Linked DNA regions of Homo sapiens. The protein of the gene in region 3 purifies or fractionates together with the protein of the main gene of each other region. This does not show direct contact. Each region holds a gene or a part of one and is shown on either strand. Other genes may lie near its edges.

Region 1 (4,188 bases), about 67 Mb from region 3:
GCACAGTAAAAGCTCTGGACCTAGTACCAGGGATGTAGCCAGAGGAGCTGAATCTCCATTTCCAGTGTTTCCTAGAGTGTGTCTTCCTGCACAGGGAGGCCGAGATACAGGACACTGAGGCCAGACGGCAGAGCAGGAAGCATGTGGCTGACATAGGGGTGACGTGCCAGAGCACTGCTGACCGCCGCTCCCTGCCAGAAGAGGATTAACAATAATCCCAACCATTCACCCAGAGCTTTACCGTTTACAAAAGTGTTGTCACATCCGATATTGCATCTGGGCCATACAGCTGCCCCAGAAGGTGAGCAGAGGGAGGACTATGATCCCCATTATACAGATGACAACCCCGAGGTGCTGAAGGTTAAGTGTCTGGCCTGTGGCTGCACAGCAAGTGGTTGAGCCAGGTGCCAAGCCAGGACTTCTCGTCCCACACCTGCCACTGGGTCCTGCCTAGAGCAATTTTTATCAAGTGAGACCTCTGGGACAGAATGGGCAAATTTCCATTGTCTGAACAAACCAAGTAAAAAAAACCATGAATCATTTATTCTTTGGTTGTCTACACAGACACTTAAGTACTGTATCGCTGTCATGCAGCGGCCTGTGGAGGCCCCTGGGGGTGGCTGGGCCTGTGTCCTGAGCCCTCAGCCAGATCCAGGGGGTGCGGTGTCTGGTCATGTCCACTCCAAGAGCAGTAGCACCATGTAGAAGGCTGTGAGCAGGGTCCCCTCGGCTGAGTGGCAGATGTAGGCTCACTGCTCTGCAGCCCCGAGGGGCTGGCCAGCTCAGAGTGCAGAAGAGTTCCTCTCCATGGGTCTAGTCACCCATCCGTCTGACCTGGACGCTGTCATAGCTCATCCTTGGGCTTCGATTCACTGCCTGAGAGAGACTCTTGTGCAGGTTCGGGGGGGCCCTGCTGGGCATCCAGGGGCTGCTCCTGGGAGAGGTCCATCTCTTCTGGGCTGAAGAGCATCTTCACCAGGTCATCTGCCTGCACCCTGTCCTGCAAGGACAAACCCCTGCCCATTCAGAGAGGCCTCCGCTCCAGACACTCGCTATCTCTCAGCTGCTACTTCCCAGGGGACAAGGAAGGTTCCTTAATGGCCCCAGGCTCATCTCCTTCCCAGCAGGTCCTACTCTCTGGAAAAGGACAGCTGAAGTGGGGCCCAAGGAGGGAACCAAGAACTCAGCATCGCTCCCTGTCTTGACCTCTTTCCCCACCTGGATCCCGTTCACAGCAGGCCCAGGGAGGACAAGGCAATGTGACCATAATGACAGGGCGTTGGAGCTGGTGTCCCAAGTGCTCCTTTCGTGTCTCAGCCACTGGCAATGGGATTTGGGGAAGAGAAAGGCAAACCAAGGGCGCTCTGGGAACGGGTCACCACAGCACCAGCTGCTCTCACCCGCTCGAGCTGCTCTCACCCGCTCGCTGTGTCGAGGGTCCAGGGTGAACCACAGGGCGATGGCACAGCGCTGCCCCCTGGTGACAGCCTTCACTCCATGTGGGTTTTCAGTGCCTGAAGAGAATCCCACGGCTCTTCCACACTGAGGCTGCACCTCTGCCTAAGGGGGACAGAAAGGGAGGGGGGTTGCACAGGACAAAGACTGTAATCCACTCTCAGAAGAGACATGGGCTCATTAGGGCTCACGACCGAGGGCAGCTCTTCAGTATGGCTTCCCTAAGACCAGAACTAAAGAGAAAGGGTGACTGGTTAGAGGAGTGATGGACACGTCTCAAAGCCCCTCTGGATGGGGGAAGGGTACCGCCCACTGGGAAGCCCAGTTGGTTATTTTTGTCCACTGCACTTTGGGAACATCAGCTGTAGAAAACAGACTTTTTATCTCCCAGGGACAAGGACAAGGGAGCACTCACCGTCACGGTCTTGGCATCCAGTTCAGTGAAATAAAAGTTTCCGCCATCGAAGTCCCCATTTAGGTAAAGGATGGCGCTGGGAAAGGCAGAGACATCTCATCATGGCCCTTCCCTGCCTCCCTTTCCCCTGAGCCTTCACCTCCAGGTGCTCTCAACCAGCAGCAGGAGGGTGGCTTTGTGTGGGAGGGAAACCTTTAAGAACCTATACTGATGCCGTACAAACTCCACCTTTCCACTCTCCACCCTCGCCTTAGAGTCCCCTGTGCCCACTCACACTACCGTTCTTGTCACACCACGATATGATTCCCTCTTTGCCTATCTTCTTATCCAGCGGGTTTGGGGATAAAGGATTGGACTCTGGGAACAGCTAGCCCCAACCAGTGTGTGTGTGCTAGGGTGGGGTAGTAGAGTGCAGGGCACTGTGGGGCCTCTGAGGAGGGCACAGACCTCCTCACCCTGCACCTGCCCCGCACTCACCTGTAGTCGCGGAAGGTGTAGGCTGGGGGCTCTTTGACACACACGAGGGTCTCGGCATTCAGGATGCAGTTGTCCACGTGGACTGGATGACTATCATCCTTCCTCTCTGCCTGGACCTCTGGGGCCAATGTCACACATGTTAGCAAGGGAGCACCTCGGGAGACGGCATAGCTCTCTTCTTGGCAGGGGAGGTGCTTCCCAAAATGTGTTTGAGTCTACGGAATGCCCAATGAACTAGGGGGGTGTCTTTGGCTAAGCCACAAGCCTAGGGGTCAGGACAAGTCTGCAGGCTTCCTAGGACAGTTCTTGGCAGAAGTGAGCAGGGTGTGGCAAGCAGGAATGAAGGGCTCCAACCAAGGGCAGATCCTGGGCAGAATGGCACAACCCTGGTTTGTAGCTGGACTTTACAAAATACAAAGGCCCAGGGAAGTGAGAATGAGGGATCAGGAGGTGGGACGGACGCAGGGCAGAGTGGGTCAGTCCTCCATCAGGACTGCAGGAGATGGGGCTGAGTGGCAGGAAGTGGGGCAGAGAAGAGCTGGCTAGCAAAGGGAAAGCATGAACTTCAGTGGGGCTCTGGGGTGGGGTGGGTGGAGAAACCATGCAGGGAGAAGGTCACGAAAGGGAACAGACCGGGCTCACTGTCAAATGCCAGGCAGACCACGTCTTTCCCCAACGCAAACCTTTGGCATGCTCTATGTAGGCACCGTCACGTCGTGGTGGGTGCCTCCTTCTCCATTCCCACTTGTCCAGCCAGTCACCAGGTCCTGTCCATCCACCTCCTGCACCTTCCCGGGGCCTCACTTCTCCCTCCTCCCACTGCCACTTCCTGAGTTTAGGGCTTTGCCCTTGTCCACAGAGGTCATTGCTGACCAGCTTCCCTTTTTGGTTTGAAATCTCTCCACACACACAGCAGCAAAATGAATCCTTTAAAAGTCAAGGCCTCACCACGTCCTTCACTGCTTGATGAGGCCTCCCTGGCCTCCTGGCACCTGTGCTTGTGCTCTCCCACCGGGGGCTTGTGACACACCCAGTTGTGTGTCTGACTGGTCCCTTTGGGTGTGCCCAGATTGTGACAGAATTCCAAACATTCTGAGGTAGAGGAAAGCCCTCTGATCTGTGCCACGTACCAATGGCCATCACTGCCAGGGGCCTGCTGGAGGCTCCAGTATGACAGAGCCGGCTCTGGGCCACATAGGATCCTTGCAGCACTAGCTGAACCTCTCCCCTTCTTGGACATGCAAAAGGGAATGTGGGTGGGCGAGGGAATGAGGAATAACCTCCAGGCCACTCTCACTTGTAAATCACGAAGCTCTCTCACAAATTTGGTATTTAACAATTAGTAAAAGAGAATCTGCCACATAGCTATGGTTGAGCTAAAGGATAAAAATTCCCTTGAATGTAGCTCTCCAGGATTTGGCACCTTTCTTAGTTCCCCTGACTACCAGGCTGCACAATGCCTCCACTCCTGTGCAAACACCATCCCACCACCCGGAGTACTCCGTAATCGTATTCATCCTGCAAAACTGCCATTGCTTCCTCTGGGAAGCCTTCTTTTTGTTGTTGTTGTTGTTGTTATTATTTTTGCTTTTAACAAGCCCTTCTGTTGAGGGCTGTCTTTCAACAGATGGCAGCGAGGGAGCTGCTCAGCTATGTATGAAACCCTAACCCGGAGGCAGGTCCTCTATGAATGGTTTAGCACCAGCTTCCCCATTAAAGTGCGTTGTGTGACAAGTGACGGGTGGCCCCCTTTCTGGCTGCACCCCATTTCCCTCTGGGAAGCCTTCTTGATCCCCAGGTAGGTTGACTATAACTTCCTCCATGCTACTGTGGCATGCATC
Region 2 (7,033 bases), on a different chromosome or scaffold from region 3:
AATGCTTGAATCTCACTTAATTTTTGGCTTACCTCTACCAGATGTACTGAAATGTCACAATTTTTCAGCACAGATCCAAGTTGAGTGAACACCTAAATACCAAAAGAAGAAAAAAAAATACAATGTGTTAAGTAGGTTTTAAGTTTCCTAATCATTTACATCAATGATTTAGTCATGTCACAATAGAGGTAATATTTCAGAGAGATGTGTTCCTTACCCAAGCCACTCTCCAGCAGTCTATAAGAATCCTAACCTACTAGTTATTAAGCATAATCTAAATAAGAAATGAACAATGCACAATTTGGTTTCCTAATGATAAATTATGATTAACAAATGAAAATAAAAGATTTGGCATCTGATAAAAACAATGATTCAGATTATGGAGTCTAAAAAAAGACCAAGGAAATAAAATGTACACAGCCTTGATTTGATAACATCTCTAGGTCTAGGAAGTAATCTCATCTTTGAGATGATGAGAACTCTAACCTCAAAGAACCAAATCTGAATGGTACTGAAAACCTGACTGCTTAACTCGGGGGTCTGCCACATTTTCAATCTATATTTAGCTACACATTTTTTCACTGTTGTAAACATGCAAGGGAAAAAGGAAAATACTAATATTTTACCAATCTTTTAAGGCTAAAAAATCAATAGCAAAAGCATAAAGTGTATCAACATTATTTTTCATTTGAATTTAATTTCTACTGGTGATCTGCCTCCAATTAATACTTTTGAGATATGAATATGCACATCCAGACTGATAATATGAACAAGATGATTTTTCCAAATTTAGTTTTGAGATCGAAATACAAATGGAAAAACTTCCCAGGAGAAATTCCTTCAGAAGGTAACATCAAAAATAAAACAGGTCTGACACTTCTCTGGCTATTTGCTTTACAACCCTTTAAATTCTTTGGCTTTTAGGACTTCTTATGACTCAGTCTGGAAAAGCATCCTTCATACATTTTAAGGGCTCTGGAATCAACTTTTAAAGTACTTGAACAAGAGAATATGATTTGAGGTCCTTATTAAATATTTTATATTCAAATGACCTTGCTGAAAAACATAAAATAGAGCCCTGGAAATTTAAATTCGTGATTTTGTTTTCTTTCTTCACCCAAATAATCAAGATTCTTATTTGTCATATGTTTATATATTTTATATATTTTTTAAATCCTTTAATTTCTAATTTAAAGCAAAAACCATAAAGCATCAAGAAATTTAAATTTATATTGAGTATGTGTTGGTGTTTTTTGGTTTTTTTTTTGAGACAGGGTCTCACTTTGTTACTCAGAGGCATAATCACAGCTCACTGCAGCCTCAACCTCCTGGGCTCAAGCAATCCTCCCATCTCAGCCCCTCAACTAGCTTCGACCACAGACGCATGCTACCACGACTGGGTAATTTTTGTATTTTTTGTAGAGATGGAGTTTCACCGTATTGCCCAAGCTGATCTTGAACTTTGGGAGCCTCGAACTCCCAAAGTGCTGCGATTACAGGCATGGGCCACTGCGCCCAGCCATGTTTGTTTTTTACATTGAATTGTCAAGTACATATAAAATAAACTCAAAAACACTAATGAGTTCCAAAATACTAAAAACTACAAAAGTTTAATAAATACTATTACTTATCAGGTACTATAAACAACTGTCCTCCTTTTTAATGTTTTCATAAAATAGTACGTAGACTGATAGAAACAATGATACAAGAGAGAATATCTACCATAAATGGGACATGACCTTATCTCCAAAGCCCCTGTGGACTCCCTCTACCCTTGGAAGTCACCACCATTCTGAATCTTGAGTTAATAACACCCTGACTTTTCTTTATAAATGTTACTAAATATATTTTTATCACCAAATACATATTGTTTAATGTTGACTATTTTTTGGATTTTATATAAATACAATCATATGATACGAACTCTTGCAAACTGCTACTTTCACACATCTTGTTTCATGTTGAACACTGTTATATTCCACTGTGATTTCACGCATTCTTGCAGTACTTCGTATTCCACTGTATGACTATACCACAATTAACTGATTCATTTACCCCCCGATGGGCATTTGTGCTGTTATTTTCCGCTATTTTATACAATGCTGCTATCTTCTTGTATGTGTCTCCTGGTACACATATACACTAGTTTCTCTAGGGTATATCACTAGCAGTAAAATTGCTGGGTCATACAATATAAGAAACTTTGATGTTAATAGATAATGGCCAATAGCTTTTCAAAAAGGTTGTACAAGGCTGGGTACGGGGGCTCATGCCTGTAATCCCAGCACTCTGGGAGGCCGAGGCAGGCGGACCACTTCAAGCCAAGAGTTCAAGATCAGCCTGGCCAGCATGGTAAAACCCCTTCTCTACTAAAAATAAAAAAATTAGCCGGGTGTAGTGATCCACGCCTATTATCCCTGCTACTCAAGAGGCTGAGGGACAAGAATCGCCTGAACCTGGGAGGCAGAGGTTGCAGTGAGCCAAGATCGTACCACTGCACTCCAGCCTGAGTGACAAAGTGAGACTGTGTCTCAAAAAAAAAAAAAAAAAAGAGAAAGAAAAAAGGATGTACTAAATTATAGTTTTACAAGCAGTATATGAGAGTTGCCATTGATCCACAAATCCACATCTTCACCAATACTTGGTGTTGACAGACTTTTAGCTTTTTTTTCTAATCTGGCAAGGGTTACAGTAGTATCTCATTGTGATTTTAATTTTCATCTTCCTGACTACCAATGTGACTAATCTTTTTTTTTTTTTTTTTGCTTTTTTAGCCGTTTGTATTTTCCTCTTTTATGAATGGACTTGTTCACATCTTTGGCCTGATTTTTCTCAAGTTATCTGTCTTCTTACTGACCTAAAGGAGTTATTTAAATAATTCTAACTACTAGTTCTCTGTTGGTTACGTGTTACAAATAACTTCTCCCACTCTGTGGCTTGTCTAATCACTCTCTTAATGGGGTCTCTGAAGAACAAAAAGCTGCTAGTTTATTTGTAGAGCAAGAAGTTTTTAATTTTAATGTAAGAAATGAAATATTAATCTTTTGCTTTATGCCTTCTGCTTTTTTTTTTTTTAATATAAAAAGAGACGAGGTCTTGCTTTGTTGGCCAGGTTGGTCTTGAACTCTTGGCCTCAAGCAATCCTCCCACCTTGGCCCCCCAAAGTGCTACGATTACAGGCATGAGCCACTTTGCCCAGCCTAAACTTTTTTTTTTTTTTGAGACGGAGTCTCGCTCTGTCACCAGGCTGGAGTGCAATGGCGCAATCTCAGCTCTGCAATCAATCACTGCAGCAATCACTGCAACCTCTGCCTCCTGGGTTCAAGCGATTCCCTGCCTCAGCCTCCTGAGTAGCTGGATTACAGATGCACACCACCATGCCCAGCTAATTTTTGTATTTTTACTAGAGACGGGGTTTCACTATGTTGGTCAGGCTGGTCTCGAACTCCTGACCTTGTGATCTGCCCACCTTGGCCTCTCAAAGTGCTAGGATTGAGCCACCATGCCTGGCCTAAACTTTTAATATAATTAACAACTTTCCTTCCTGAGGAAACAAATACACTCTCCCATAATGTCTTCTAAATGTTTCCTATTTTTAGCTTTCATATTCTCCCCCTCCCCTCCAATTTTTAAGTTTACAGACAACAGTAAGTAATGACTGATTACATTATTCTGACATTATATTTTAGCTGAGAAATATGAAATTAAGGAACTGAAAACCAATGAAATCAACATGGTTTGCACACTCAGAAGTACTAAAATTCACTTATATGAGACTAGAAGACATTCTTTTATTACCTACCCTCAAAATATCTCCCACGAGGGTTCCCCTACCTGGGCCCAGTTCCACCAGCTGGAAAGCTGTGCTTTTTCCAGTGGCCATCCATTCACTAATGAACCATATACCTAGTAGCTGTGAAAAGGGAAAAAAAAAACACATATTAAAGTATTATAAAGTATAAAAGTATACCACAATATAAAATTTCACATAAATATGCACTATATGCCAAAAAGCAAAATGTGTACAGCCATATGTATGTTGTTCAATACATACGTACATGTTCACATAGGAACTTCCTGGGACTACATCATAACATACACCATTTAGGAAGATTAATAGGAAAAAATAAGGCAGCCTCTGCTATAAAAGGTCCCATGACATAGATAAGAGGATATCACTAGCAGAAAGGTATTAGTATTTGAAAGCAAATAAACATATGAAATGTGATTATGCCATTTCTTCATATTCATATGATTTAAACAATTACATGATTCTTATAATAACTAATGTTTTTCGATACGCACATTCTACTTCCTCGTATACACTATTTCCTATTTCTAAATTCATAGAAGGTACTTAGTGGAAATGAATTAGAATTCTGTTTATTAAAGGAAGACTTGGCTGGGCGTGGTGGCTCACGCCTATAATCCCAGCACTTTGGGAGGCTGAGGCGGGTGGACCACCTGAGGTCGGGAGTTCAAGACCAGCCTGACCAACATGGAGAAACTCTGTCTCTACTAAAAATACAAAATTAGCCAGGAGTGGTGGCACATGCCTGTAATCCCAGCTACTCGGGAGGCTGAGGCAGGAGAATCGCTTGAACCCGGGAAGCAGAGGTTACAGTGAGCCGAGATTGCGCCACTACACTCCAGCCTGGGCAATAAGAGCAAAACCCTGGCTCAAAAAATAGATAAATAAAAGAAGACTTTTACTGTAAGTACGGCTAAAATCATGACTGGGAGCTTTAGAGCTTCTCTTAATTCCACTAATTCTTCAATGCTCTTTATCTTTTCTCTCTTCCTTCCCGGGCACTCTCCTGGGCACTCTACCTCTTTCCTCGCCTTTCCTTTTGTCTCTCTTCCTTCTTCCATTCTCTTTTTTTTTTTTTGAGACGGAGTTTTGCTCAGTCGCCGAGGCTGGAGTGCAGTGGCGCCATCTTGGCTCACTGCAAGCTCCGCCTCCCGGGTTCACGCCATTCTCCTGCCTCAGCCTCCCAAGTAGCTGGGACTACAGGCGACCGCCACCACGCTCGGCTAATTTTTTGTATTTTTTTTTTAGTAGAGACTGCGTTTCACCGTGTTAGCCAGGACGGTCTTGATCTCCTGACCTTGTGATCCGCCTGCCTCGGCCTCCCAAAGTGCTGGGATTACAGGTGTGAGCCACTACGCCTGGCCCCTTCTTCCATTCTCTTCCTTCATCTGATTCTCCTTTTTCTGTCCTCTTTATGACCCCCTCCTTTCCTTCTCTTTCTCTTTGTCCCTCTTATCTCTCCATTTCCCTTCCTACAGTGGAGTATAAACTTTTCAAATATTCTCTCTACCATTTTACTCCCCTCTACTGCCTCTCTATTCCCTCAGTACATAAACTACTATAAAGTTAAAACTTTTGATGAATCACAAAAAAAGCTGTAGAACACTACTACAGAATAATACAATTTGATCTGCTCTCAAATGTTTATATTAGCTTCATTCATACTTTACATAGTATATTACCTCCCCAAAGATTTGACTTATTTCAGGTGAAGTAATGAAATCTCCTTTTTCGCCTAGCATGTCACGGTACACATAATAACCCTGAGTAAAAAGAGAAAATAGAGAAACAAAATTAATTTTCAAATAAGCCTTTTAAAAATACCCCTCCAAAATCTTAAATAATGTAAAAGTGAAATAATTATTTAGTAAGAAAGTTCTCTCCTCTAAATAAGCAAGGGGAGCCAGGTGTGGTGGCTCATGCCTGTAATCCCAGCACTTTGGGAGGCCGAGACGGGTGGATCACGAAGTCAGGAGATTGAGACCATCCTGCCTAACATGGTGAAACCCCATCTCTACTAAAAACAATACAAAAAAATTAGCCGGGCATGGTGGAGGGTGCCCGTAGTCCCAGCTATTTGGGAGGCTGAGGCAGGAAAATGGCGTGAACCTCGGAGGCAGAGCTTGCAGTAAGCCGAGATCGCGCCACTGCACTCCAGCCTAGGTGACAAAGTGAGACTCCATCTCAAAAAATAAATAAATAAATAAATAAATAAATAAGCAAGGGAAATATGGTGTCTTTACCCAAATTTTACAAAGTAACAGTCATTTTACAAAACCGGTAGAAAAACAATTACACCTTGACCGTAAAGGCAGAAGTCATGTAACGTCCATCTCTGCACGCCAGACCCTTCCTCCCCTCCCAGCTCCCACACCCAACACAGCAAGACCCTGCCTACTCCTCCAGCCTCCTCTCCAAATTCTAACACTTTCTGCCTCACATATGGGCCCTGCCTGCTGGTGATGTTCTGTTTCTTGATTTGGGTGCTGGTTACATGGGAGCATTTGCTTTGTGAAAATTCATTGAGCTGTAAACTTGTGGTTTATGAACTTTTCTATATGAATATTATATCTCCAGAAAAAGGGTTGTTTTTTTTTTTCTTATTAGCCTTGCTTGTCCAGACATCCATGCCACTGCAAATCCTCACCCTTCTCCCTTTTCAACTTTCCCTGGCAGTCTTATACTCAACCTCCGAATCTGCTCAAATGCCACCTAGCTGACCTCCTCCAGCCCTCCAACCTAAGGCCAAATCCAGTGCCACCTTTTCTGAGCTAATTTGTCTCTGTTCTTCACCACAAAGTATAGTTGTTTGCAGAAGATCATGCCTTATTTATCTTCATATCCCAAGTTTTAGCACGATGCCTAACCTTCAAGAAACACTCAAGAATTGAGTTAAATATTTCTTATGCTTCTCAAGCTCCTATTCTACCACCTTACTACAGGTGACATGGGCCCCAGTCTCACTCCAGAATTAAAGAATGTTATAAAATACGAATTCCTCAGCTTCCCATCCCCACCTGGCCTCTAACCTAATCTGGGGACTCCAAGAATGAAATGCCTTCCCCTTCTCCTCTCATCCAAACCTAATCCCTCCGCCTGTGCTCTGGACCATTCCTCATACAACTCCCCTGAGTCCTTTTAGCTGTCCCCTTCTCTCTTCCAGCTTCAACTTTCCCCCTTCAGCATTCAAAATAAATCAAGTCACTCCCATTTTTGAGAACA
Region 3 (7,033 bases):
CTGGGGCTTGGAGGCAGAGGTGGGCTGGGAGCGACTGGGAATGGAAAAAGAGGTGGGCAGCTCATTCTGCAGGTCCATGCAACCGATCACGTGGTCCAGTTCAGAAGGCCGGGTGGCTCCTTGGGCTTTACCCTGAGCGAGACGAGGCTTGGAGACTTATAGTCACCATCTGAGGAAGGCTCAAAGCTGTGGCCCCCCAGGGTGGGGGGAAAGCCATGGATGGAGTAGATGCCAGGGTGAGCCGCAGAAGGGGCTGGCACCCCCATGAAGCCAGCCACACTCCCATGGGGGTGGGAATATGGAGACATGCATGGGGAGGGGATGCCCTCTGGAGACACAAGGCAGGGGCCTCCAGGGCTCCCAGATCCTGGACTGGCCCACAGGGAGTTCTGCAGCTGAAAAGAGAGGGAAAGAAGGCCCATGAGCCTGTAGCCTCAGGAGCTGACTTCCCTACCCAGGGGCTTTCTCTTTGTCCTTGGGGCCCCAGAAACTTTCCAGGAAACCTCCACTTGGCTCAGATCTACCCCCTCTCACCCCCAACACTGGCAGTGGCATCTCAGGAGGCCCCTGCCACTGTTCTCAAAACGAAATTTTCTTCTGTGATTCCTTTGTGTTCCGCATGCGTCATTCATGAGACAGGCAAGAGCCCCGGTTTGCAGAGAAAGAAGTGAAGTGGTGTACCCACTGTCATACAGAACGCTGACGCTCTCCAGGTTTCTTCAGGCCAGACCTCATATTCTTTTTGGTGACCCTGCCAGGTCCTGGTTCAGGTAGGGCTGGGGTCTTACCTGAGGGTGGCTGTCAGTACGGGGCAGCACAGAGATGTCATAGGCAGCCGTGAAGGGGTTCCGCCCCTCCTGGATCTTCCCATAACGCTCGCGCTTCCGCCACTTGGCTCTGCGGTTCTGGAACCAGACCTGGGGGCAGGTTGTGGGGGTTTGAGGGGGTGATAGGGCAGCCCTGAGGAAAGGAGCCTGCTAGGGAGAGCTGATGGTTGTGTCCTCTTGTGGGATGGGGAGCAGGCTCCAGGATGGAGGATCTCAACTGTTAATCCACACTGTTCTCCAGGCCAGGGAAGCCTGGGAGGAAGCCTGGGAGAGGCCCAAGCCCACAGTGGGTAATTGGCCCCATGGGCCTCCAGCTGTCACTCCCCAGGTTGAATCACTGTGGTCCTCCAGCCTGGCTGTGTCTAGTAAGGGTGTTGTGGGGGCATCTGTGGGCCTCAGGGGCCCTAGGTACTTCCTGGGTATACTGTGTACATGTGTTGGGTTTCTAGTCTCCCTGCCTCATCTCCTTTTCCAGGCTACCCACCTCATAGCATCCGAGGAATCTTAGACATTTCTGTTCAGGTCATGGTCCTGTTTAAACCCTCAGTGACTCCCTGGAGACCTTGGTCCAGAGCATAGCTTCTTAACAAGGCCCCTGCCTCTCTGCACAGCCTCATATCCTGCCAGGCAAACACATTTATTCTTCTGGTTGCCTCCCAAGCTCCCGCCCAGCTCTTCTGAAACACTGCTATCTTGCTCCTTCCATCTTTTGCTTAGGTTTTCTCTTCCTGGGCTACTCATCCCCTCAACACATACATCCACACTGGGCATCCTCCACAGGACTTCCAAAATACCCTGGACCTCTCTTTGTACTCACCCCATTCCATTACCATGATCTGTTTTGGAATCTGTTTCTCCCATTTATTTGTGAGCCCTTGGCAGATAGGGGTGGCACATCTGTGTGTTGTGCACATCTGTGTACATATCTGTGATGAATTCGTTGTTTGGTATATGTGCTGTGACTGTTACATTTAACTGTATTGGTATATATGTTTTGTATTTCTATCATTTAATCAACATTTATGTGTCAGCCTCTAAGCTAAATTTAACAATGTCAAAATAAAACCAACCAAACAAAACAACCCCTGCTTTCCAGGGATATCTAGCTGGGAGTCACAACAGAAGAAAGCTGTGTGTGTGTGTGTGTGTGTGTGTGTGTGTGTGTGTGTGTGGAGTAATCCGTCTACCCCAGCTGGGATCAGGCTTCCTGCCCCCATGGTCATTCCTACACATGCAGGCAGGTAAGGCACCAACAGTGAAGGGGCTGTGCATACCCCATCCCCCTAGCTCCCAGATTGCCAAGATAAGAAAGCAGGCCTGCAGCAAGGTCAGCAAAAGGCCACCCCCACCTGCCCAGCTGCCTGGATTTCCTTTCTCTGCTCTCCCTCCCCTGACAGAGGATGAGGGAGCTTACAGCCAGTGAATCTGGCTATTGGAACTCACTTTTCTGTCACCACCCATTCTCCCTTGGGGATCCCGCTGTAGGCCTCCCCTGGGCTCTGGACCTGCCCTCTGCATTATCTGGTGTGTAGTCTCATTCTTCCTCTCCATAGGGCAGGGTGTATGGGTGGGTTTCACACCCCTGCCAGAGAAAACATTCCTACTCCAGGGTCTCCATCCTTCAGGAAGCTTCTAGACTAGGGGTGAGGGCCTCATGGCTACTCCTGCACCCTCTCAGGTTGAAAAGGCCTAGGAGAGGAGCAGAGGAAGTGCTCTCCACCTCCCACAAACACTTGCTTTGGGAAGAGCTGGTTAGACCACACCCCGGAGGCCTGCTGAGGTGACTCCATGGTCCTGATTCCCATGGCTTATATCATCTGGGGTTGCCTTGAATGCCGGGCCTCTTGCCCTGATGACCTCAGCCCCTGGAGGCCTTGGGGGACAGTCTTGGAAGTCTGTTTTGGCTCCTCGGAGGAGCAGGGAGGCAGGAGAACGCAGCAGAGAAGGGGAAACAGCCCAAGCCTCTCTCATCCTGTTGGATGCAGCCGTAGGGCCTTCTCTGTTAGATGACAGCTGGCCTCTTTATAGACTGGCCTGTCAGTCCCCATATCCTGCCAGGACTATCTCCTGCCCTAGTGCCTTCACAAAGGGTCTCTGGAAGGGCCCCATGCAGGGTGGGATAGCATGAGCTTTGTTCCTGCTAAGTCTCCTCCATGGTGGGAGAGAGACTCCTCTGCCTAAGAGGTCACCTCCTCACCTTTCCCCAGAACTCCAACCCACCCCTCCCAGTGTCTCCTGCTTGGTATCGGGAAGCCTGCTTTGATCGAGCCGGTTCAGTGCAAGCCAGTGAATGGCCATCTTCCTCTTGGGCCAGACTCTTACTGAAACTCCTTCCCCATCCCCAGCCTGCTTGCCACCTTCATGTGCTTGACACTTCCAGCATGCTTGGACGTGGGCTTCCCTTGCCTTCCTCCCTTCTCAGCATTTACCTACCCACAGGCTGGGCTCCCCCCATGTAAAACTGGCCACGGCCCCTCTGGGAAGCCCTGGCACCTGATCTCCATGGGGGATTTTGTTAGGATGGGGAAGGGCTCCCAGCCAGCCTTTCCCAGCCAGCCTTTCCCAGCCAGGGTCTGAGCGCTGGCAGGGACCCAAGGTCGGTGGCTCCTGATGACTTTGAGAATCACTAACCCTGAGACCTCCTGACAGGGACCCTCCCATTCTAGGCAGCCACCTCAGGAGCAGCCCTGATGTGTGTTCAGCACTTCACCGCTTCCAAAATGCGGCCATCCCTGTGATCCTCAGGATAGTCCCTACGCAGCCAGTCCCATCATTCCCTTTTCCTGAACTGGGAAACTGAGACTGAGAGATCTATTAACATACCCCAAATCACCTCCAGTAAGTGGTAGACTTTAGGACTCCCACACAGGTGATGGCTTCCAGAGGCCATCGCCCTTATACCCAGGCATAAGCTTCAATTTGGACCAGAAGAGCCTGTGGCTGCAGCAGAGCTGGGCATGAGGGTGAGCCCAGGAGGGGAAGGCTGGTGCAGGCCCCTGGGAAAGGTAGCTCTGGGAGGCACCAGTGCCCACCTCTCCCAGCCCTTCCAGATCACTTTCTGGTCACTGTGTGATAGGGGCAGCCAGAGAGCCCCATCCTTGCAGTGCCCTCACCTGTACCCGGGCCTCAGTCAGGTCTGTGCGCAGGGCCAGCTGCTCCCGGGCATACACATCAGGATAGTGGGTTTTCTGGAAGACCTTCTCCAGCTCCTCCAGCTGGAATGTGCTGAAGGTCGTGCGGTTACGACGCTTCTTGCTCTTGTTCTTGGCCAACTCCATGGAGTCAGGGAGTCCCGGGGAAAGAGGAAGATGCAGGCTGGCCAGGCAGGGGCCTGGGGAGCCTTGCAAGTTAGAGGGCCCGTCTCTGGGGCCCCCTCGGCAGTCCAAGGGCAGCTGGGGGAAGCTGGCAGCTTTGGAGGTCTTCTCCTCAGCTGCAATGGAGAACACAAAAGGGAGGATGGCAACTGAACCAGGGGCTTTTGTGGGTTGGAATGGAGGGAGGGGGAAGAACATTGACGCCTCAGTCTCCGCCTCCCCCTTCCTTTCCCTTCCCTTCCTCCTGGCAGCCACCCTCCATGGGAGCCTGGCATTTAGAGGCCTGCCTGCTGAGCCTCCAGCTGGGGAGGGGGCCCTGGGGAACTATGTGCTCTGTGGTCTGGGCGGATCTGCTGGGGCCAGAGTGGGGTTCATTTCGGGGAAGTGCTCTGTGGTGGTGCGTTCCACAGGGACGTGAGAGGACTGGCGCCACAGCAGGACCACCACCCTGGCAAGGCCAAGAATGGGGGCAGAGGGCGGGGTGAGGATGGGGTGGTTGACATCTCCTGCTCCTGCCAGAAAGTGCTTCCTTGTTCCTAACTCTGCAGGCCTTGGTTCCCAGGCCCTTATGCCCACGCCTCTGTTCCCAGGGCCAGGCAGGCTGTGGACGTGGGTGCTCAGACCACCTTTGGCTGGTCTGGCTGAGCTTTATTCTCTGAACCCCAGGTCTCAGGTCAATATCAAATTCCCCAGCTCTGGTGTAAGAAGGGCAAGATGGGACAAAGAAGCTTCCAGAGGGATTGCTTCTCTCCATTCCTCCTAAAATTGTGGTATCTGGGCAAGGACTTAAGCTCCAGCAATAGAGAAGCAGAGCTGAGATAGGCTGTGCTCAAAGAAGGAGAGTTGGGGACCAGTGTCACAACAGGGCACAGCCCCTGTCCCCATCATTCCCATCATTGACCACCCCCTCCTTCCTCAGGAGTTTCTAACTGCTCCCCCATTGCCTGTGTTTAACAGGCAGGGAAGGACTTGATTACAGACTGGAACAGTTTCCAGCAGCCCCACTCTGACATGCTAACCCCTACTCCAGAAGCTTGGCGGAGCCTCACCATGGTGGATCGACCGACAGAGCATGGTGAAAAATAGGTCACTCTGATTGCCCACACCCTCTCCCTCTGGCAAGGACCCCCAGCGGTGTCCCCATGAAATCCCTCCTCAACAGTCCACTGGGATGGCAGCTGAGACGCCACAAAGACGCCCCACTGACTCACACAGCCTCTTGCCTGGCTCTGGGCCCATCTCCAGTGGAGGCCTGGCCCTGAGGAGGCCCAGCTAGCTGGCACAAGAGGCAGTGTCTTCCCAGGACTTGGTGTCAGGATCACAGCTGTGGTTGGGGGAGGATGGGACTGGACAAATGGGCCTCTCAGGATCTGGGTCTGGTGAGTCCCTGTCTGCACTGTGAAGGACAAATGGGGCAGGGTCCTCCTCAGCTGGAAGGTGGTCAGTTACTTTCCAGGACTACCCAGGCCATGAGATAAGCTCCTGGTGTGTGTCCTGGAGGACTGGGAGAGTCGAGCAGGGCTACCTAGCCTTGGACCATGCCCAGCCTGTACACAGGCCTGTACACAGGTAGCCCACAGCTACAGCCCAGGGACCAGGGCTCCTTCACAACTCAGGTGGAGCACAGGGGAGAAAGTGTTCCAGTCTCTGACTTCCATTCTTGGGCCAGCACATTTCAGGTTTAGAGGCAGTTCCATTTGATAGAAGCTTAGGAAGGAAGACTCACAGAAGTTGAACCAAATAATTGAAAATGATAGGAAGACTAGGGACACTGGAATGGGACATCCCCCCCCCCCGCCCCCGCCACCCCCACCACATGCATACACACAGCAGGCCATGGAAATGTTCAGCCTGAGAAGAAAGAGTCTTGGTGTCTTGTGTTTGTAGGGAGGCTGTGCTGGACTCCAGGCAGAAAAGGGGTGAGGGTAGCTCAGGGCTGAGGGTCAGGGCTGGGGTTCAAGAGTACTGACATCCTGGCAGAGGCCCTCCAAAGCCCTGGGGCTTGCTCATCTGCCTCTTGGGTCTCAATAGGACCTGCCCAGAAGAAGGGACCAGATCTGGGGCCCTGAGACTTGCGTTCCCGACCTTGAGCCACCAAGCTGCCAGGGACAAGGGATGAAAGTGCAGTAGGACTTCTCAGAGCAGCTTCCCCAAAGAAGAGGCTAAGCCTGCTGACCTATGCCCAACTCCCATGCCTGCCCAGTCTACAGCCCTCTCAAGGGACCACGGAACTGCTCTCCTCATTGTCATTGCCCTGAAACCTCCTTGATCTACCTGGAGAACACCAGAGGGAGGGTGGCATCCCTCCACTTTGGGAGAGGGGCACTCCTCAGAGAACACAGAGCAGCCTCCTGAGGAGCAAGGCCCAGAAGAGGAAAGGGATAGAACTGGGACAAATGGAAGGCAGAAGCCAGGAAAGACAGGCCAGGAATAGCAGCCAGCAGCTTGAACCTAAGCTTGTAAAGGAGTGAGGGCTGCTCTGCTGAGCACGGGGCACATCTGAGGTGTGTATGGATTGTGCAGAGGAGTCACTGCACCTGATCCGGACACTAGGTGGTTAAGGCGGGGTACTCATGTTGGAGACAGCCTGAGACAACGCTGGGGTGTCTTCTGCCTGCATAACCGCAGGGCCACAGCAGCAGCTGTTGGGCGTGAAAGCCAGGAGCCTTTTAACGTAGTAAAGGAGCTCTCTGTCCCTGACCCAGCTCTCAGGCCTGCCGTACCCTGAGCACCCCTCACCCGGAGGAGTGCCAGAGCCCCTACCAGCGGCTGCTTCTAAGCCACTGTGCAGCCAGGAAGCAGCGCCGCAGCAGGCCCGAGTGCTCCACTGTCCCCACAGAAGGCATCCATTGAGACCGCGGGACCAGCCTTGGCTTTCACATTTCGCTGCAG
Region 4 (7,252 bases), on a different chromosome or scaffold from region 3:
CTCCTACCTCACTGGAAACCACTATCCTAAGTTTCTGTTTATCATTTCCCTCCCCTGCCCTCCCCTCCCCTTCCCTCTTTCTCTCTTTCTTTCCTTCCTTCTTTCTTTTTTCTTTTTTTTGAGAGAGTCTTGCTGTGTCGCCCAGGCTGGAGTGCAGTGGCACAATCTCGCCCCACTGCAACCTCTGTCTTCTGGGTTCAAGCTGTTCTCCCACCTCAGCCTTCCCAGTAGCTGGGATTACAGGCATGTGCCACCACACCCAGCTAATTTTTTGTATTTTTAGTAGAGACAGGGTTTCACCATGTTGGCTAGGCTGGTCTCCAACTCCTGACCTCAAGTGATCCACCCATCTTGGCCTCCCAAAGTGCTGGGATTACAGGTGTGAGCCACCGCGCCCAGCCTATCATTCTCTTTTCAATATAGTTTTACCCTGTATAAGGTAGGACTATATTATTTTTACTCCTAAATAATACATTGTGTGTTTTTCCATATTTTAAAACTTTAGGGTCGGGCGTGGTGGCTCACACCTGTAATCCCAGCACTTTGGGAGGCCGAGGTGGATGGATCACAAGGTCAGGAGTTCAAGACCAGCCTAGCCAAGATGGTGAAACCCTGTCTATACTAAAAACTACAAAAATTAGCCAGGTGCAGGCCGGGTGCAGTGGCTCACGCATGTAATCCCAGCACTTTGGGAGGCCGAGATGGGTGGATCACTTGAGGTCAGGAGTTTGAGACCAGCCTGACCAACATGGTAAAACCCCATCTCTACTAAAAATACAAAATATTAGCCAGCTGTGGTGGCGGGCGCCCGTAATCCCAGCTACTCAGGAGGCTGAGGCAGGAGAATTGCTTGAAACTGGGAGGCAGAGGTTGCAGTGAGCCGAGATCGCACCACTGTACTCCAGCCTGGGCGACAGAGTGAGACTCAGTCTTAAAAAAAAAAAAAAAAAAATTAGCTGGGTGTGGTGGCAGGTGCCTGTAATCCCAGCTACTCGGGAAGCTGAGGCAGGAGAATCGCTTGAACCCGGGCGGTAGAGGTTGCAGTGAGCCAAGATGGCGCCACTGCACTCCAGCCTGGGCGACAGAGCGAGACTCTGTCTCAAAAAAAAAAAAACAAAAAACAAAAAACAAACAAACAAAAAAACTTTAGGCAAATGGAATCATTCTCAATGGTTCCCCCCCGCCCCCAGATTGAACTGTTATTTGTAGCTCTAATTCTTTCATTTTCCCTGCTATAATATATTCTTCTATATGCATTTACTCTCATTTTTTTTTAAATCTACTCTTCTGTTTATGGACAGGTTATTCCTGCTTTCTGCCATTAAGAACAATGTTGCGTTACCTTACTGTAGACACTTGTTAATTACAAAAGAAAACAAATGAAGTAGGGAAAACAGACATCACCTTAATAAAGTGATCAAAATTAACACAGACAAGGGGTGGGCATTGTGTTATTTAGATTTTACACCTGAGACGGATGGCACATTGCTTCTGTGGCATTCTAGCCAAAGAGCTTAATCTGAATTTAGTCATGAGCTTAATCTGAATTTAGTCATGAGCTTAATCTGAATTTAGTCATGAGGAAACATCAGGAAAACCTCAAATGAGGAACTTTTTATAAAGTTAACTGGCCTGTGTTCTTTAAAAAAAAAAAAAAAAAAAGGCCAGGCGCGGTGGCTCATGCCTGTAATCCCAGCACTTTAGGAGGCCGAGGCAGGTGGATCATGAGGTCAGGAGTTTGAGACCAGACTGACCAATACGGTGAAACCAGTCTCTACTAAAAATACAAACATTAGCCTGGCATGGTGGCACGGGCCTGTAATCTTAGCTACTCAGGAGGCTGAGGCAGGAGAATCGCTTGAACCCTGGAGGTGGAGATTGCAGTGAGCTGAGATCATGCCATTGCACTCCAGCCTCTGCAGCAGAGCGAGACTCCATCTCAAAACAAAACAAAAAACAAAAAAAAGACTTTATTTTTTAGAGTGGTTTTAGATTCATAGCGAAACTGAGCGGAAACTACAGAGTTCAAATATACTCCATGACCCTACAACATGCGCAAGCTCCCCCACTGTCAATGTCTTGCACTAGAATGGTACATTTGTTACAATCAATGAACCTACATCAACACATCGTTATCACCCAAAGTCCGGTTTACATTAGGGCTCACTCTTAGTGTTGTACATATTATGGATTTTAACAAATGTATAGCATATATCCACCATTATACTATCATATAGAATAGTTTCACTGCTCCAATAATCCTGTCCTCTACCCATTCATTCCTCCCTTTCCATAATTCTCAGCAACCACTGATCCTTTTACTGTCTCCATAGTTTTGCCTTTTCCAGAATGTCATTTGGCTGGAATCACACAGTATGTAGCCTTTTCAGTTTGGCTTCTTTCAACCAGTAATATGCATTTAAGACTTCTCCATGTCTTTTCATGGCTTGATAGCTCATTTCTTTTTGGCTTGGAATAAAATTCCATTGTGTGTATATACCACAGTTTATGTATCCACTTACCCACTGAAGGACATCTTGGTTGATTCCAAGTTATGGTAATTGTGAATAAAGTTGCTACAAACATCCATTCGCAGGTGTGTGCATAAGTTTTAACCCATTTGGGTAAATACCAAGAAGTGCAATTTCTGGATTGTATGAGTAGAGTATGCCTAGTTTTGTAAGAAACGGCCCAACTGTCTTCTAAACTGTATGTACCATTTTGCATTGCCACTATCAATGAATGAGAGTTCCTGTTGCTCCACATCCTTGTCAGCATGTGACGTTGTCAGTGTTTTGGATTTTGTAGTGGTATCTCATTGCTGTTTTGGCCTATATTTTTCAAAAATGACAACGGCATGACAAGAAAAGCCGAGGAACCAGTTTAAAGGATATGAAATAGACTAGATGTAACAGTGATCACGGATGGACTGCATCCTAAGAGAAAAAAGTGCCATGAAAGACATAATTGGAACAGCTGACATAACCGGAAATGGAACATGATTAAAGTCTTCTATCAGTATTAAATTTCCTAAATTTGATTGTCTGGTAGTTTCATTCTTAGGACATACATACTGAAAGACTAAGGGGTTGGGCACGGTGGCTCACGCCTGTAATCCCAGCACTTTGGGAGGCAGAGGCAGGTAGATCACCTAAGGTCAGGAGTTCAAGAACAGCCTGGCCAACATGGCAAAACCTCATCTCTAGTAAAAAATAGAAAAATTAGCCAGGTATGGTGGTGTGTGCCTATGATCCCAGCTACTCGGGAGGCTAAGGCAGGGAGAATTGCTTGAACCCGGGAGGCGGAGGTTGCAGTGAGCCGAGATCGCGCCACTGCACTCCAGCCTGGGTGACAGGGCGAGACTCCGTCTCAAAAAAAAAAAAAGGAAAAAAAAAAAGAAAAAAAAAAGACTAACGGACAGTGGGCCTGATACATGCAACCTATCTCAAATGAGTCAGAAAAAAATGTAAAGATAGAAATGTGGTATAACGTTAGCAACTTGTGAATCTTGATGAAGGGTATATAGGAACTTTTTGTACTGTTTTTGCAGCTTTCTTGTAAATTATTTCAAGATTTAAAAGTTTAAAGATTTTTTAAAAGTGCTGCCATTAACATTCCATCCATATTTTTTGATGCACACGCGCAAGCTTCTCCAGCATATTCCACCGAATGGTGTTGCAGATTCATAAGGTGTGCACATCTTCAACCTGACTAGCTATACAGTTTACAAAGTGCTGACATCCTTATTAATTTTATTTTTGCACTGTCTTTTTCTCTCACTAAAATTTAAGGTTGGGCAGTGCTATTAAAAGTGCGGCCCTTGGGCCCGCAGCATTAGCCTCATCAGGGTGCTGGTTAAACACACAAATCGTCAGACCTCCACCCCAGACTTTCTGAATCAGAAACTCTGGGGGCACAGCCCAGGAATCTTCGTTTTCACAAACCTCCAAACGAATATAAAGATCGTAGATTATATAGACCGTAGGGCCGATGTATATAATCTATTAGGGCCGCGTCGGCCTTGCAGGCGGGTCTCCAAGTGAATGAGCGGCAGAGTCCCATCATGCGCATCAGCCTGCGTGAACCAGTGCGCAGCGCGCCTTTCCCGGGCACCCTCTAGGTGCTGGCAGCTGGCGCCCAGATCCCCCGGCTGGGTGGGGAGGGGCGGCCGGACGGGGCGGGCCGGAGGCTGGCGTCCCCGCCCCGAAAGCACTGGGCCCGCCGCGTCGCACCGTCCTCTTTCCTTTCCTTCTCCCTCCCCTTTTCCCTTCCTTCGTCCCTTCCTTCCTTCCTTTCGCCGGGCGCGATGGAGCCGGGGCGCCGGGGGGCCGCGGCGCTGCTAGCGCTGCTGTGCGTGGCCTGCGCGCTGCGCGCCGGGCGCGCCCAATACGAACGCTACAGCTTCCGCAGCTTCCCACGGGACGAGCTGATGCCGCTCGAGTCGGCCTACCGGCACGCGCTGGACAAGTACAGCGGCGAGCACTGGGCCGAGAGCGTGGGCTACCTGGAGATCAGCCTGCGGCTGCACCGCTTGCTGCGCGACAGCGAGGCCTTCTGCCACCGCAACTGCAGCGCCGCGCCGCAGCCCGAGCCCGCCGCCGGCCTCGCCAGCTATCCCGAGCTGCGCCTCTTCGGGGGCCTGCTGCGCCGCGCGCACTGCCTCAAGCGCTGCAAGCAGGGCCTGCCAGCCTTCCGCCAGTCCCAGCCCAGCCGCGAGGTGCTGGCGGACTTCCAGCGCCGCGAGCCCTACAAGTTCCTGCAGTTCGCTTACTTCAAGGCAAGTCCGCCTCGCCCCGTCCCAGGCCCCGGCCCCGCCCCTGACCCAGCCTCCAGGCCCTAGCCCCGCCCCTGCGCCCGGGGCCGCGTTGCCCCTCCAGTTCTAGACCTGGCTCCCTCCCATCCAGCCCTGCCAAAGGTCTCCTCCAAGTCCTGTCTCCTTCTTCATCTCAACTAGAGATGAAAATGCCTTTCTTGAAGGGTAACTCTAAGGTAGAGAATACGTACACAGAACGCAGTACAGCGCCAGGCACCCAACAAAGTGCCTGATAAATGTTCTCTGTTATTTGAGGGCAGACGCCTCTTTTCTGTATATACCATTAAAGTCGCCTTTTTTCTCAAGTGAGCGGTGACTTGCGATAATAAAGCAGAAGACCTGAGGAGCCGACAAGTACCTTTTATTTTTATTTTTTGTTGAGACAGGGTCTCACAGTCGCCCAGGCTGGAGTGCAGAGGCGCTATCATGGCTCACTGCAGCCTTGACCTCCTCAGGCTCAGGTGATCCTCCACCTCAGCCTCCTGAGTAGCTGGGATTATAGGCGCGCGCCACCACACCTAGCTAATTTTTTGGTATTTTCTGTAGAGACAGAGTTTCGCCACGTTGCCCAGGCTGATCTCGAACTCCCGGACTCAAGTGATCCTCCCACCTCGCCTCCCAGAGTTCTGGGATTACAGTCGTGAGCCATTGCACCCAGCTGACTAGTTCCTTTTAAAGAGGATGAAATTGAGGCCAGGGAAGGGCAGGGACTCCTTGCAAGGACACATCCCTGCTTAAAGGGGAACTCGTGCACCGTGAGTCATCAGGATTGGCCCTCTCCGCTGTTTCTCTCTTTCATCTAGAATTTAACACAGTTCACTGCCTCCTTTTAATGGCTGCTTAAGTTCTCTCTGTGATTGCTGGCTAAAAATAGCCACAAATTGCAGTTCTCTATCCTATGGGTTCTCACTCCGAGGACCCACAAGTTTTAAGAATGGTTAGATTCCCTGTCACTAGATAAAGAGGCTCTAGCTTGGTGGGTCCTCACAGGGTTTGGCTAAAAGAGCCCTCTCAAAGCCCAGTTTCTACTTTCTCTGAGAAAGATTTTAAAAGGAATATATTGTGTTTTTTAAAATTACTACAAAAATAGATTCATGGCATATCCTAGACTCTTGAGGTAGAAGGTTTTTGTTTTTAAACTTTGTTTTCAGTTTCTGGACTGCAAGATCTGTTTTTTCAGATTTCCACCGAGACAGAGCCACGTGTATATTGTATTTATATGAGCAATAAAATAACACAAAACCCCAAAGAGGGGAAAAGCTGGGTTACTTCTATACTTCTATGCTTAGTTACAGTTTTATTTAAAGTATCAGTTTTGTGAATGTTTGTTCTGGCAATTAAAAAAAAACAGTTTTAAAACAGAAGCAGGGAATGAGATTAATAAAATTCCAGAATGTTGAAAATGAGGGCTGGTTCATACAAAGCATCATTTTTTAAGCTAAAAATGACTTATCTAATTCTTTTTTTGTATAGCTTTTGGCAAATATGTTCTGAACCAAATTTAGGTCACATAATCAAGAGGAAATCATTTTATTTTTAAACCTAGAGAATACTAGAACCTCTGATTTCTTTAATATACAGATGAATTTGAACAAGTGTTACAGGGAAGAGGGGAAGAACATTTTACTCAATGTGACCAAAAGGCATGGGTTTTCTCTTTCATCATGGTGGCCCCAAAAGGTTAGGATGGTCATAGCTTCTCTTCAAAACCCTTTACAGGTCTTGTAACAATCACTTAGTTGAAAGTCAGTAAAATACTATCTATCTATCTGTCTATCTATCTGTTTTTTTTGAGACACAGTTTCACTTTGTCACCCAGACTGGAATGCAGTGGCACGATCTCAGCTCGCTGCAACCTCTGCCTCCAGGGTGCAAGCAATTCTTGTATCTCAGCCTCCTGAGTAGCTGGGATTACGGGCATGTGCCACCACACCCAGCTAATTTTTGTATTTTTAGTAGAGATGGGGTTTCACCATGTTGGCCAGGCTGGTCTCGAACTTCTAACCTCAAGTGATCCACCTACCTTGGCCTCCCAAAATGCTGAGATTACAGTCTGGGATTTGAACCACCATGCCCGGCCACCATCTTAACATTTTGAGATCTCATATAGGGCAGGAAAAAGCTAAGAATTTTATTAATAAACGTGAATGTTACTTAATTGTTTCAATGGAAGATATAACTGAAAAAGTAATTTTTGGTGGAGATATTGTATGGTGTATTTTTTCTCAATGATGTTTATGGCTTGGCATGATGGCTCATGCCTATAATCCCAGCACTTTGGGATGCCAAGGTGGGAGGATCTCTTGAGTCCAAGAGTTCAAGACCAGCCTGGGCAATATAATGAGATCTCATCTGTACAAAAACATTAAAAAATTAGCCGGGTGTGGTGGCGTGCCTTTCTAGTTTCAGCTACTCAGGAGGCTGAGGCTGGAGGATCAC

What was found.
Region 1: the proteins of ALX3 (region 3) and P3H1 purify together in Homo sapiens (affinity purification with mass spectrometry; 2 studies listed by BioGRID and IntAct, with this or other methods). This does not show direct contact.
Region 2: the proteins of ALX3 (region 3) and NDUFAF7 purify together in Homo sapiens (affinity purification with mass spectrometry; 2 studies listed by BioGRID and IntAct, with this or other methods). This does not show direct contact.
Region 4: the proteins of ALX3 (region 3) and CRTAP purify together in Homo sapiens (affinity purification with mass spectrometry; 2 studies listed by BioGRID and IntAct, with this or other methods). This does not show direct contact.

The regions. Positions count from the first base shown.
Region 1 is NC_000001.11:42,745,853-42,750,040, forward strand, and holds the end of P3H1 (prolyl 3-hydroxylase 1 isoform 1 precursor), read right to left. Parts: intron 2,466-4,188; coding exon 2,348-2,465; intron 1,947-2,347; coding exon 1,871-1,946; intron 1,561-1,870; coding exon 1,420-1,560; coding exon of another isoform or gene 1,060-1,419; exon of another isoform or gene 1,001-1,059; coding exon 845-1,000; 3' UTR 522-844; downstream 1-521. UniProt on the Homo sapiens protein: Basement membrane-associated chondroitin sulfate proteoglycan (CSPG). Has prolyl 3-hydroxylase activity catalyzing the post-translational formation of 3-hydroxyproline in -Xaa-Pro-Gly- sequences in collagens, especially types IV and V.
Region 2 is NC_000002.12:37,234,637-37,241,669, reverse strand, and holds part of NDUFAF7 (protein arginine methyltransferase NDUFAF7, mitochondrial), read right to left. Parts: intron 5,575-7,033; coding exon 5,494-5,574; intron 3,914-5,493; coding exon 3,803-3,913; intron 93-3,802; coding exon 1-92. UniProt on the Homo sapiens protein: Arginine methyltransferase involved in the assembly or stability of mitochondrial NADH:ubiquinone oxidoreductase complex (complex I).
Region 3 is NC_000001.11:110,060,647-110,067,679, forward strand, and holds part of ALX3 (homeobox protein aristaless-like 3), read right to left. Parts: intron 4,258-7,033; coding exon 3,941-4,257; intron 918-3,940; coding exon 789-917; intron 396-788; coding exon 87-395; 3' UTR 1-86. UniProt on the Homo sapiens protein: Transcriptional regulator with a possible role in patterning of mesoderm during development.
Region 4 is NC_000003.12:33,109,772-33,117,023, forward strand, and holds the start of CRTAP (cartilage-associated protein isoform 1 precursor), read left to right. Parts: upstream 1-4,242; 5' UTR 4,243-4,306; coding exon 4,307-4,777; intron 4,778-7,252. UniProt on the Homo sapiens protein: Necessary for efficient 3-hydroxylation of fibrillar collagen prolyl residues.